Homo sapiens: one gene and its partner. Each later gene encodes a partner of the first gene's protein in a complex. Each region holds a gene or a part of one and is shown in the gene's direction. Other genes may lie near its edges. The genes, in order: SCT and SCTR.

Evidence for each region.
Region 2: the proteins of SCT (region 1) and SCTR are in contact, whole or in part, in a cryo-EM structure (PDB 6WZG), measured with the Homo sapiens proteins. Residues at the interface, in NP_068739.1 of Homo sapiens: His28 (codon at 2,476), Ser29 (codon at 2,479), Asp30 (codon at 2,482), Gly31 (codon at 2,485), Thr32 (codon at 2,488), Phe33 (codon at 2,491), Thr34 (codon at 2,494), Ser35 (codon at 2,497), Glu36 (codon at 2,500), Leu37 (codon at 2,503), Ser38 (codon at 2,506), Arg39 (codon at 2,509), Leu40 (codon at 2,512), Arg41 (codon at 2,515), Glu42 (codon at 2,518), Arg45 (codon at 2,527), Leu46 (codon at 2,530), Gln47 (codon at 2,533), Arg48 (codon at 2,536), Leu49 (codon at 2,539), Leu50 (codon at 2,542), Leu53 (codon at 2,551), Val54 (codon at 2,554); in NP_002971.2 of Homo sapiens: Arg30, Leu31, Cys32, Leu35, Asp71, Asn72, Pro117, Val125, Val127, Asn128, Asp129, Asn132, Arg135, His136, Leu139, Leu140, Leu142, Lys143, Tyr146, Tyr150, Arg188, Asn192, Lys195, Leu199, Phe200, Ser202, Asp203, Val205, Met219, Phe222.

Annotation. Positions count from the first base shown.
Region 1 is NC_000011.10:625,561-629,454, reverse strand, and holds SCT (secretin preproprotein), read left to right. Parts: upstream 1-2,273; 5' UTR 2,274-2,311; coding exon 2,312-2,382; intron 2,383-2,465; coding exon 2,466-2,567; intron 2,568-2,665; coding exon 2,666-2,758; intron 2,759-2,924; coding exon 2,925-3,024; 3' UTR 3,025-3,146; downstream 3,147-3,894. UniProt on the Homo sapiens protein: Hormone involved in different processes, such as regulation of the pH of the duodenal content, food intake and water homeostasis.
Region 2 is NC_000002.12:119,522,791-119,526,390, reverse strand, and holds the start of SCTR (secretin receptor precursor), read left to right. Parts: upstream 1-1,907; 5' UTR 1,908-2,164; coding exon 2,165-2,236; intron 2,237-3,600.

The DNA of each region.
Region 1 (3,894 bases):
TTCGGAATCACCCGCCACTGGGGAAATGCAACTAAGACCACAAGGAGGTGTTGCCGCAGAGAGAATGGCTGAAGGTTAAAAATAGCGACTGCAGGGATGTTGACAGTGTGCAGAGAAAGTGAGGCCGGGCGCTGTGGCTCACGCCTGTAATCCCAGTGCTTTGGAAGGCCGAGGCAGGTGGATCACTTGAGGTCAGGAGTTTCAGACCAGCCTGGGCAACATGGTGAAACCCTGTCTCTACTAAAAATATAAAAATTAGCCAGTCATAGTGGCAGGCACCTGTAATCCCAGCTACTTGGAGGGCCGAGGCACAAGAACTGCTTGAAACCGGGAGGCGGAGGTTGCAGTGAGCTGAGATGGCCCCACGGCACTCCAGCCTGGGTGACAGAACGAGACTCCCTCTGAAAAAGAAAGAAAGGAAGGAAAGAAAGGAAGAAAGGAAGAAGAAAGGAAGAAAGGAAGAAAAAGAAAAAAAGAAAGAAAGAAAGAAAGAAAGAAAAAGAAAGAAAGAAAGAAAGAAAGAAAGAAAGAAAGAAAGAAAGAAAGAAAGAAAGAAAAGCAAGCAAGCCAGCAAGCCAGCCAGCCAGCCAGCCCCACATTGCTGGCGGGGCTGTGAAATGATGCAAACGCTGGGGAAAATATTGTGGCTGATTTAACAGACGGATACAGTGCATGACTCGCAACCACAGCAGAACATCAAAGGGCTTGACGGCCATTTCTCCGTCCACTCCATGATGTATAAATGGCTCACAGACACTTGAGAACATGCTCCACATCGCTGGCCATTAGGGAGATGCCAATCAAAACCGCAGCGAGACACCACGTCGCACCCACCGGCATCGTTAGTACGCGACAAACAAAAAGCCACAAAGTAGCAAGTGTTGGCGAGGACAAGAACCGTGTCCCTGCTGCGCTGCTGGGAAGACAGTTTGGCGTTTCCTCAGAATATTTAACACATAATTACTCTGTCACCCAGCAATTCCCTCATAACTATACACCAAGAACGCTTGAAAACGGGATCGGGAAGCGCCGTTTGCACACCCACGTTCACAGCAGCGTTACTCGCCGTCGCCCCAAAGGGGAGGCAGCCCAGGTGTCCATCAAGATGCCCACAGATGAGCGGACGCGGTCGATGCGGTCCCTGCACACAGCGGGACACAGTTCCCCACAAAAGGGAAGGAGATTCCCACACAGGCCAGGCCGCGGCGGCGAAGGCGGAGGATGCTGCGCTGAGAATCCAGCCGGTCTCCAAAGGACAAATCCCGTGAGGCTCCCCCTGCGCGCAGTCCCTGGAAGCGCTGAATCCACAGACAGAAAGTGGACGGGGCGCCGGGGCTGAGGAGGGGAGGGGGCGTTTGATGGGGACAGAGCTTCATTCTGGGAGGACAGGAGAGTCTGAGAACGGATTTTGGGAGGACGGGAGCGTCTGTGAACGGATTTTGGGAGGACGGGAGCGTCTGTGAACGGATTTTGGGAGGACGGGAGCGTCTGTGAACAGATTTTGAGAGGACGGGAGAGTCTGAGAACGGATTTTGGGAGGACGGAAGAGTCTGAGAATGGATTTTTGGAGGACGGAAGAGTCTGAGAACGGATTTTGGGAGGACGGGAGCGTCTGTGAACGATTTTGGGAGGACGGGAGCGTCTGTGAACGATTTTGGGAGGACGGGAGCGTCTGTGAACGATTTTGGGAGGACGGGAGCGTCTGTGAACGGATTTTGGGAGGACGGGAGCGTCTGTGAACGGATTTTGGGAGGACGGGAGCGTCTGTGAACGGATTTTGGGAGGACGGGAAAGTCTGAGAACGGATGGTGGGGATGGATGCACCGAATGATCCTGAATCGCGCACTTCAAAGCAGATAAAATGGCAACACCGGCCCCCCAACAGTCACGCCACGCTGAAGCTGGAGACGAACTCGCCCCAGCAAGGTGCTCCAGGGGCCTCCGGAACTCCGGCCGCAGCCCCTTCCCCGGGGCCCCCCAGTCCCCCCCCAAACCCTCCCCCAAGCCCTCCGGCCCCTCCGCCCCCGCAGGCTCCGAGGCTTCGCGGTGCGGTTCCCTCTGCGGGTCCCAGGCCCGCGCTCCGTTCGCCCCCCAGGCCGGGACGTCCCCCTCCCCCAGCCGGCCGAGGGGCGCCAGCGCGGCGGAGGGGGCGGGAGGCCGGGCCGGGGCGACAGCTGGGGGGGCGGCCCTGACCTTCCCGGGATCGCTGGGCGCGGCCGGGCCGTCCCCTTTCCGGGCGCCGCCATAAAGGGGCCTTGCGGGGGCCCGGGGCCGTGGCCGCAGCGCTCAGCTCCTGCGCCCCGACCCCGCCATGGCCCCCCGGCCCCTCCTGCTGCTGCTGCTGCTCCTCGGGGGCTCCGCCGCGCGCCCCGCGCCCCCCAGGTGAGCCGCCCGCCAGGCCCGCCCGCCCCCCGGGCCCCACCCGCCCCCAGTGCGCCCTGACCCCGACCCCCGACCGCCCGCAGGGCCCGGCGACACTCAGACGGGACGTTCACCAGCGAGCTCAGCCGCCTGCGGGAGGGCGCGCGGCTCCAGCGGCTGCTACAGGGCCTGGTGGGGAAGCGCAGGTGAGGCCGGGTGGGGTGGGGGGTCCTGGCGTGGTGCCCCAGCAGCAACGCGCGACCCCCCAGCTCCAGGACTAACTCTGTTTTGGGGCGGGGGGCAGCGAGCAGGACGCAGAGAACAGCATGGCCTGGACCAGGCTCAGCGCGGGTCTGCTCTGCCCGTCAGGGTCCAACATGCCCATCCTGCAGGCCTGGTGAGCACCCGCCCCACCGCAGACCCCACTCCAGACCCCACCCCAGACCCCTCCTTCTGTCCTGGCCTCCCCGGGTCAGCGCTGGTGGCCACTGGAGGCCCAATTCCAGCAGCGGGGCCGGGGTCTCCAGCCCCAGCCCTCAGACCCTCACGTGCTGTCTCTGCAGGATGCCCCTGGACGGGACCTGGTCTCCCTGGCTGCCCCCTGGGCCTATGGTTTCAGAACCAGCTGGCGCTGCTGCAGAAGGAACCTTGCGGCCCAGATGAGGAAGGAACCCCCTCACCACCTGCCCGGCCCAGGAGCGCAGCTGCATTTGGGGTGGGGGGCAGGATGGGGGAGAGGGGGAGGGGTGGTACTTGGCACCAATAAAGGAGGAATCAGACCCAGACGCTGGGAGTTGTCTGTGTCCACTCAGTGTAATCGAGGCAACCCCTGTGTAGCGGGGCTGAGGGATGGATGGAGGCCCATCCACCCAGGAGGGACTGACCACACCCAGCTGCCCTTTACACCTGCAGGCACGGCGGCCCCTCATCCTTATCTCTGGCATCAGGGCCACCTCCTGTACCTCGACTAAGTACTGCAGGGCCCCGCCCCACCCCTTGTCATCCATTAGGAAACATTCTGGGGCTCGGGGGATCCCGGACACCCTCTCAGCTCCTGCCCGGGGGCCCATGTGGTCAGTGTTTCTGTAAGGGGTAGTGGGGAGGGTGTGAAGGGGCCAGGGGGGCTCAGGCGGGCAGGAAGAGGGGAGGGTGGAGGTGTCACCTGGGGTGCCAGGAATCCACTCTGGCGTGAGGACTCCGGACCCTCTGTCTCGTGTGGCCTCGGACCAGTGGCTTGACCCCTCAGAGCCTGTGGAGCACGGAGCGTGCAGGGCTTGAAGGCGACCATGAGGGCACCGTGCAGGGTTAGGACACTGAGCCCAGCCCCAGCCATGAGAGGCCAGAAGCTTCGGCGCACAGGCCTGGAGGAGGAGAACTCCACCTACCCCTCACGACAGCCACTTCCTCGCCCCGACCCTACCCAGTGGCCTCTCCCTAGAGCTGGGGGCTTCTGGGGGGCCAATGAAAAGAGCAGGGCAAGTGTCGAGTCTCACCTCACCCCCTCTGTCGGGCACCAGGGCCCCCCAGGAACTC
Region 2 (3,600 bases), on another chromosome or scaffold:
TAGGGTGCTGCGGTTCAAGCAGCCTAGGAAATAACATTTTTCTTTCTAGCCTGAAACTTGAACCAATTGAGAAATAAGATCAAGACAGATGCGGCCAAATATCACTTTATAAAGTCAGTATTGCAGAATGTGGTTTATACTTGTAGGCAAGTGGGTTTCCTAACTAAACCCCAGAATTAGAGAGACAACAGTTCATACTGGACCAGTTCCAGTAGAGCCTCGACCACTAATCACAGCCTGGCCCAGGGAAATCCAGTTACAGGCTCTCTGTAGGGGGGCACACTGTCAAAGGAAGGAGAGAGGAGGGGACCGAACTCATGCCAGTTCCTTATTCCAAATGCATCAATCATGTAAGCTGGCCTCACCTGTGTATACGTGCCTGCATGCATGCTTGCGTGTGGGTGCACATGAGAGAGAGGTGGGGGATAGACAGACAGAGAGAGGGAAGGGGTAGAAACAAGTCAGGAGCATTATAGTAATGACTGCTGCCCATGAGAAAGAAAGAAATAAGGGTGATTCCCTTTCCCCATATATCATCTCGTTTCCTGCCACTGTCATAGTGCTTCCGCAAACATCCTTGCACATTTCATTAGGCCCTTGGGTGAGTATTTATGTAGAAAGAGTTTCTAGCAGGGGGTTGGTGATTATGTATACTTTAGGTTTGATGTGTACTGAGCATTGGTTTTGGACCTAGGAGCTGAATGGATTTTCCTCCCTTTTATTTCTGCTGGGATTTACCAGCCTCAATTTACTAATAGTCTCTTCCGGTAGGGAAGGCTGCTAAGGACAACACATTGTTACCTTAACAGCTGCATGGCCTTCTGCGTAAGGGCCAGTTACAGAGAGTCGGGTCAGCCATGTAAGGGTAGATTCAGGCTTTCCTGTCTGAGCCTCTGAGTTGCAGTACCCAGACATGTAATGAATCCTCCTCCACCTCCAATGCCCTCCTCTGTCAAATGGACATCGTATCACCTAGGGGTGTGAGGGAGAATTAAATGAGCTGATGTACTTAAAGTGCCTGGGAGAAAGATCAAGAAAGGAGGAGAGAGAAGAAGGAAGGGAGTGGGCACCAGTGCAGACTAAGGAAAATTGAGTTTGCAAGACCCATCTAGTGCTGGGCCCAGTGGCTCATGCCTGTAATCCCAGCACTTTGGGAGGCCGAGGTGAGAGGATCTCTTGAGCCCAAGAGTTCAAGACCAGCCTGGGCAACATGGTGAGACTCTCTTTTTTATGTAACAGTAAAAAAGGGCCATCGCCCTGTACTAAGAGGCCAAAAGAGACGCCTTGTACTAAGAGGACGTCTTGTACTAAGAGACGCCTTGTACTAAGAGGCCAAAAGCAAACCTCCAGGATACACAGCACCGATGGAGAGGGCTACTGGGACTACCTGCCTGAGGCTTAAATAGCCTCCCAGGGGGTTCATCCTCAGGACGGTCCCCAGATGCCTGAGTGTACCACAGATCCTCCTTGGTCATCATCAAAGGAGGAGTTCATGGGAGTGAAACTTCATGGAATTAGCGCTAATGACTTCAATAATGAAAAAATCGGAAATAAAGTGCAAGGTAGCTATCGGGGGGAATAGATGCAATGGGCCTCGACTGTGTGACAACTTTCAGTCCGAGAGTGGGTATTATCAGACGTGTTGTTAGGGATGAGAAAGCCGAGGCTTACAAAGGTGACCTAAGTTGCCCACCGGCCCCCAGCGAGCTTGCGCTTTCTGTCCGTGGACTCCAGAGACAGTGCTCTTTCCGGACCCGGGGTTGGGCGGGATTGCCGCGTAGAAGGCTAAGCCAGCGTGCCCTCTCCTGGCCTCCTCCAGCTTGGGCCCAGCCTGCGGGAGCCGACTCCGGGTCCCCGCGCCCTCCCTCTGCCTCCTCCCCTGCCAGCCTCCGCGCCGACCCCGCGCCAGTCCCTGCCGGGTGGAGGAGGCGCGCCGGCAAAGCCGCGTCCTGATCAATGGGGCGGGCGGCTTAGCGCGCGCGGCCACCTGGTCCGAGGAGGAGCAGTCCCGGGGCCCGCCGCAGGTCGGGTGGCTCAGCCATGGCTCCTCGGGGCGCAGCGGCCGGCCGGAGCCCGGGACCCTGCGCGGGGCGCTGAGCTCCCGAGCGGGCAGAGGGCACGGGCAGGCGGACGTCGGGGCGCCCTCGGGGAACGTGCGGGCACCATGCGTCCCCACCTGTCGCCGCCGCTGCAGCAGCTACTACTGCCGGTGCTGCTCGCCTGCGCCGCGCACTCGGTGAGTACTGCGCCCTTCTGCAGGCTGGGGACCCGAGGGAGCGACAGTCTCGCCCTTTCTCCGGCCTCGGGCAGGATGCAGGTGGAGAGGGACTAGCAGATCTTCCCATGAGGAATAGGGACTCTTCCCTCCCAATCCTCCCAACATTAATCTCTCCCAGCTCTTCTCCGGAGGGACCCTTTCCCAAAGAAAAACATCGTGCGCGCCAGACGAAGGCGGCTCTAAGATGAATCCCTGTGCCCACCACCGACCCCTTCCTCTGGTCTGGCTTCTGAAACTCTCCTACACGGAAATTCTGGAGCCGCCCGTGGCAGTGCCTACTGTGTCCTGGGCGCTTTGCCTCCAATCTTTCCTTGAAACCTGGTAATCACCTTTCGAGGCTGCTATTATCACCGTCACTTTACAGACAAAGAAAGGAAAGGAAAGGAGAGGAGAGGGGGAATAAAAATTCTTGCTGCAAGTCAGAAAAAGAGGATTGGAACCCACATCAGTATCAGTCTGCCCCCAAACCTTGACATTTTCACACTCACGGGCTGCGGATGGGAAAACCTGAGGGAGCTCTGGCAGGAGCTTCTGGGTCTGCGATGGGACCGCCTGCCGCTCTCCCCACACCGTCTCGTGTGGGATGCGGCTCCCTAATGTCTGCGTGCCTGGTGGCTCCAGGGCGCTGCTGTTCCCCAAAGCCAGGTCCTGGCAAGGGGCTGGAGGAGGAAAATAATAATAATAATAATAATAATAATAATAATAATAATAATAATAATAGCGGCAGGATGGGTGGTTTGTTTTTCTTTCCAACAGAAATTCCTGGGAGTCCCGGGCCTCTCTGAGCTCCGGGATCTCTGATAAAGAGAGTGGCCCCACCCAGACCAGCAGAAAGGAAGGAATGGGGAGGGAGTGGGGGTTAGAGGTGGGGGCCAGATTCCAGAATCATCCCTTCCCACTAGCATTCCAAATTGGTCCCCAAGTCGTCTCTTCCAAGAAGCTCCCCAGGGAACGCGCTTGGGGACCCAACTGAGTCTCTGATCTCTGTCCTGGGCAAGTCTCATGGTGTCCAGCCTCCTTGTCTTCCCTTAGTCTCCTCTGGTTTGATTATAAGGAAAACCAATGCTCCCGGAGCCGACCAGAGTGTTGACACTCAGGAGATGCTCATTTTTCTGGTAGCCCCAAGACTTTCAGCAGCAGTAGTTGGGATGAGTGCAATTTGGAGCTTGCTTGGAGCTCCCTTGCCACCGTGGAGCCTCCTCTCTTCAGTGGCAGTGCTGGCCTTGGAAGACGCTAGAGCAACAGCATGCACTCATGAGTTTTGACTCCCAATTTGGAGAAATGCCAACTGGGATACTGGGGACAGTGCAAAGCCAGGTAGA